Regions from separate parts of the Homo sapiens genome. Here region 1 is linked to region 2. Evidence: fine-mapped expression QTL. A gene starts in region 2. The other region holds a variant in brackets. All regions are shown on one strand. Distances are from middle to middle. Region 1 has its middle 24 kb from the start of DET1. Region 2 holds the start of LINC01586 (long intergenic non-protein coding RNA 1586).

Evidence for each region. PIP is the estimated chance that this variant, and not a neighbour inherited with it, causes the effect.
Region 1: its variant is fine-mapped to the expression of LINC01586 in thyroid (GTEx, PIP 0.95).

What each region holds. Positions count from the first base shown.
Region 1 is chr15:88,569,684-88,572,587 of GRCh38, reverse strand. No RefSeq gene overlaps it. Among named protein-coding and RNA genes, the nearest start is that of DET1, 24 kb to the right of the region's middle. The variant A/C (reference allele first, on the strand shown) is at 1,436.
Region 2 is chr15:88,603,981-88,606,884 of GRCh38, reverse strand. LINC01586 (long intergenic non-protein coding RNA 1586) reads left to right here and starts at 1,775. Exons shown (of 3, transcript NR_120370.1): 1 at 1,775-2,021. It also overlaps a transcript of AEN not described here. RefSeq lists a silencer at 658-1,095 and an enhancer at 1,809-2,515.

The sequences.
Region 1 (2,904 bases), 34 kb after region 2:
ATTACAGGCATGCTCCACCACACTTGGCTAATTTTTTGTATTTTTAGTAGAGACGGGGTTTCACCATGTTGGCCAGCCTAGTCTCAAACTCCTGACATCAGGAGATCCACCTGCCTCGGCCTCCCAAAGTGCTGTGATTACAGGCGTGAGCCACTGCACACGGCCTATTTTTCTTCAAAAAACTTATTAATAGAAGGATAAGGAAGAGATAGCGAGAGAGACAGAGAGAACATGGATAAAGGACACTTAAGTGTAGAGCTTGATGGTGTTTTATAAATGTATAACCATCATCTGGGCCAGGATACAGAACATTTCCAGCAACCCCAGTTGTGTTTTTCTTAACACAAATCAGAACTCAATTGGAACAGCTAAACATATACATTAACGGGTCACGTGCTGCTAGATAGCGCCTAACAAGATCTGCTAACATAGGTACTGTGCTTTCTCCTCAAATGCTATGGTTTCCAGAGCCCAGAAGAGGGGATGAGGTGATTATACTGGAGATAAGATTCTGAAGCCCAGCATTTGAGATGATTAATGATCCCTGGGCTGCTGCTCCAATTTAGTCTGATATGAAGAGAAGAAAAAGCCGTGGTTAAATTCTCCCTGTTCCAGCCTCACTACTACATTGCTCTGTTATCTCAGTGAGGTCAGAATCAACCTGTGTTTAAACTCCAGGCAGCCTTAGCGGGGGCCCCCACCCCTGCTACATTGCTGCTAGGGAGCCATCTCTCAAAAAAATAAAGAAGGATTTCTGAAGTGTTACCTGAGGACCCAGAATGCTGCCTTGCAGCACCTGGGGCTTGGCGGTGGGGTGGCTGGGGGACACTCATTCTCCCCAGCAGGTGTCCTGGGACCCCTGCAGCCCACTGCCTTTGAGGAGGTGGGCAAAGAGGCCTGTGTGGCCCGGTCTAGAGGATAAAAGTGCCAGATGGCCGGGCAGGTGTTCCGGCTGACTTAACAACCTTATCAGATGCACTGTGGGGCCCAGCCCCCAGCAGATAGTAATGATTTGTGAAAGTGGCAGGGGAAGGCGTCCCCACTGCTCCCTTCCCTCTTCCTACCTCTTCAACTTGCCCCATGTTGGTGACAGGGCATCTAGTGGTTCACAGCAGCTGACTATCCCTCTGACCCATGCTAGGTTTCTGGCAGAGGTTGCTAGCCACATCCCTAAAAGGACCTTGGCTGTCTGTCTCCCAAGCTTGCCACTTATAGACTGGCAGGGGAATGGACTCTGGAAAGTCACCCCACTGGCTGGCCACAAGGACAGATTCCTGGGAGAGCTGCCCGGGTGATTGCCCTTACTGTGGTCACACTGAATGGCACTGACATTCCCAGGTACCTACACTCTTTTCTGGCCTCATGTGCTGGACCCAGGCCTCTAGCATTTTAGTTTTGTCACATCGGAGATGCTCAATGGGGTGGAGGAAAGACA[A/C]GAATAACTCTGGGTGGCCTCACCCATAGAAGAGGTGGCCAAACTTCATGCCTAATTACTGCGGGTATTGGTTACATATCGCAAATATCAACTTTTTATTCCAAATGCTCATCCTAGCCATCTTGAGACAGAGCTCAGCTGCTTTATAAATATACCTAAAATGATGTCTTTTTCCTGTATTCAGCCATTGAGGACTAGGAAGACTGGATGTCCCCAAGGCCCAGAATCTCCCCGGCACCCCTGTTCCCATAAAAGACAGAAAGGAGTTTCCAGGTCAAGATGTTACCCTGAACACATGTGGTTTCTTCCTGCCCCTCCCAAAATTGCATGGTAAAGGCATGGACATACAGAAGGAAGTGGACACATAGTGATGAGGAACACAGGAGGAGAGATCAGAAGGCAGAACGCCATCAGTAGTACTGAGCCAAAGTAGCTGAGTGCTCTCAATGCTGCAGAGGACATAGTTGTCACATCCCCAGAAAAGCTTCAAATTCAGAGCCCAATAAAAAGAGTGACCAGCTGCTCAGCATCTCTTCTAGGCAGAAGCATGAGATCTTGCCTGGGGACCAGGAGCGTGGACTCCTCGTGTGTTTGATGGTGCTCTAAAGCAGTGGCTCTCAAACTTGATCACACATTAGAATCCTCTGAAAGCTCCAAAATACCCCAAATCTATTAAATTAGACTATCTGGGGATGGGACCCAGGACCTAGTATTTTTAAAGCTCCTCAGTTGAGCCCACTGGGCAGCCAAGGTTGGGAACCACTGCCCTAGGGTGCATTCTTCTTTCAGGCATGAAGACAGGGTGAGTTAGCCTGTTCCCTGCCTGCCACACTTAAGAGAAGCCTGCTGGCCAATAAGAGGGGGCTCCTTGGCTGCACTTACTGCTGTCCTTCCCCAGCCTTGCTCTCCTCCCCTGGAAGCATGGGCCAGTCTGTGGGCTCTCTCACCTTCCTGACTCCACTCTTCTTGCCTGTCCTCCCACTGCTCCTGGAATGATCTTCCTAAGAACCAACTCTAATCCTATCACACCCTCACTTTTCACTACCTGCAGAGCAAGTCCTAGCATAGAGACTCTTCTAAAGATTCCTACATCTTTCTTTCTAACCTAATTCCCTTCCTCATCCTTATATTCCAGTCAATCTGAAGACAAGGGCTCCCCTTGTTTTTGCTTGTGTCTCCTTCCCTCACCCCACAGCCCTAGCATTTAGGCAGGTGACCTTCGCAGGGAAGATGTTCACATAAAGACCTTACTGAGCTGGATTGAGTTGAGCAGAACACAATGTCTCTGGGCTGCAGAATGAAGGAAACATAATTTGTTTTCACTGACAACGGCCATGAATGACCTTGTTTTGAGGGAGAAGGGAAATAACAAGCAGCTTGAAAACAACATTTTTCTAAACCTACCATTTTTTGCTGTTATTCATGTTTTAAATTTTACATTTTTTTTAATTTTTAAATTTATTTTTTAA
Region 2 (2,904 bases):
CCCAAATTGTAAATCCTGGAGAAATGAAGCCATGGGGTGGAGGGGGGAGGGGATGACTGTAGTGGTGGAAAGGTAAGTTGCTCTGCTATGCGCCTTTACTTAAAATAAAAACAAACAAACAAAAAACAAACATCTTCCAGGATTTCCCCAGACGGGGCCTTACGCGGGATCGATGTGCCTCTCACCTAGCCCAGACAAGGCAGGGGCTCCCCAGGAGATATTTTAAATAGTCAAGGTGCTCACTGATTATCAGTGGCCAAAGCCCCGCCACCCACCGTAACCAAGGCAACAGGAGGCAGGTGCTGCGACTGGTTGCCTGGTAAGCATGCTAGTGCCAAGTCCTTTCCCTTCCTTCTCCACCTCCGTTAGCCCTTTTGTGATAGCGCCTCTCCCTCCGCTATCTTTCCCCTTCTTGGCCAAACAATAATCTTTGCTCCTCATACAAAGGTCACTTTGGGCTCCTTTGGGTAAAAAAACGCGTACCTTGATGTTCTTTTTGAACAGATTTCATCCACGCTTGAGTTTTGAGACCTAGATAAAATGTGCTTCTTACCTCGGCTTCAATATCTTCTCCCTCCACCCCACTCTTTCCCTTTCACTCACTCCTATTAAGGCATACAGAGAGCGCGGGGAGGAAGGAAGGAAGGGAAAAAGGAAGGGGGAGAGAGCGAGAGGGAGCACGGGGGAGCGCAGGATTTAAATGTGGCGATTTTTCACGGAACACCAGAGCCTGGGGCTCACAGTAGATCCTCTGTCCCGCTTGCCCCTTTGCTCACCGCCTGCAATCGTGCCTCTGCTCCCCGCACCACTGCCTAAATTTGGCGCCAAGTTTTTCCACTGGTCGTGGCCAGAGCGAGAGAGAATGCTCTCCTAGAATCCCACACCTAAATCCCTGGAGAAATGAGGAAGATGAGTCCCGCTTTCTTCCGCGAACCTGTGTCACCTCCTGACCTCCTCCGCGTGGGGTCTGAGGGGCCGCGAGCGCAAGTGGCGTGGGCTGGGAGGCCGAGCCGTGCGCAGGCACCGACCATGGGCACCCTAGGGCCGGGGCGCTGTCCAGCCTCTGGTGCTGAAGCTGCAGGCTCGGATTCGCTGGGGGAGGGGCTCCAGGGACCTTTAGCAGCCTGATTCTGAGCCGACTCCAAGCGGGTAGCGACTCGAAGGAGAGGCGCTTGGTCTGCCGAGTGGAAAGGCTACACTGGGAAGTAACGGCATTAGGCGCTCTCTTTCAGCAGATAGGGCTCTCCCAGGGCGCAATCCCCGGCGCCTCTGATTCCCCTCCCTGGAGTTATTTGCTGCAATTGCGGTGGGTAGGAAGAAAGGCCCTTTGCACTGGGGCGATTACCCAGTGGTCTCCTGGTACTTTTCACATTTTTTCCTGCGGCTCTGGGCTCTCTGGGTGCTGGCCAGCCTGGCGCTCAGATCTGGTGGCAGGCAAAGCAAAGAGGAGAGGCTTGGAACGCCGAACCCAGCTGCTCTTCTGCATGCAACAAGTCAGCTGCATCTAGAATCAGGGGCGAGAAGCGCGGGAGGAGGGGCGACGGCGGGCTTGGGGCGGCTGGGTTGCGAGAGCCGGCTCCCGCGAGGCTGTGGGGCCGTCTTTCTCCTACTGGGCGCGGGACCGAGCGAAACAAACTGCAAGCTGGGTTTCCGCGTCGCCCCGGGCAGGTACTGGAACCAGACGCCCCCACACCTCTAGCCTGCCCAGCATCCCGTAGGAGCGCTCACCTGCTGGGCTCCGGAGTCGCCTTCCTTCCTCTTCATTTTGGCAAGGCACATTTGGCGGGTGCCAAGCCTGGCCGCTCGCTTCTCCGGCCCTCCAGAGCAGCCTCAGGCTTAGCTTCCCGAATATCAGCTCCAGTTGGCTGCTTCTCCAGTCCCGAGCCCTTGACCTGGAGGAGGGGACGGGACCGGGGACCTCGGCTGGGATTTTTACCTGGCATGGGTCGCCGCGGCTAGGGAGGAAGACCACTTGCTCTCCGTTTCTTTCTGGAAGAAAGCCCCTCACCACCCAGCTGCCGGTACTTTGCTTCCCCCCAGGAGCCGCAGTGCAAGTAGCAGCGCAGTGCGGGGGAGGGGGTGGGGTTTGAGGAAGCTGTTTGTGAAGTGCCCCTTGAATACTTGCCTCTCTGAGGCCATCAGTCCTGTCCGGGTCCGTAGTCCTGGCATGGTCCGCCGGGTGCAAACACAGTCGCCGCGGCTGCCGGGCCAGAGGAGAACAGCTGCTTTAAAGCTGAGACCAACCCACGGGTGGCCTGTCAGGGCCACGGATGTTCATGACGTCATCCTGAAGGCGAGCGGAGAAAGCGAGTGGAGAGGGGGGAGCCGCGCTTCACATCAAATGTCCCCTGTGGCCATGGCAACAGCTTTGGGGGAGGGGGTGCCGGTCCGCGGGCCAGCAGCGGGCAGCCTGCGACTCCTGCCAGGGTCCAGCGCTCCGCTGGGGTAGAGTCCGTCATTAGTGCTGAATCCAGTTGTGCCCGGACCAGAAGAGACACCAGAGCCAGTCCCGTCCCCTCCCCGGGCTGGTCATAGCAGGTGGGTGGCTGCCTGGTCCCAGAGAAGAGGCTGGGGGAGACTGCAGGCGTCTGGAGACCAATTAGCAGAAATTTTTTTTTCACAGGGCCATTTCCTATTCTTCCACCACCTTACCTGGGCAGGTCAGACCCGGTTCACCTGACCGCTCACAGACGTATTCTCACTCACTCTCGACCGACGCATGCTGGAGCAGAGCACACCCAGGCAGCGCCCAAGCGGGACTCACCCACCTGCCCGGGTCCTCGCCTGCACACACGACAAACTGAGGCTTCAAAGCAGCCTTGAGAGCTTCAGAACATGACAAACCCACTACTGATCCAGTGCGCATCTAGGGGGCGCAAACTGGTGACCAACGAACCAGACAGG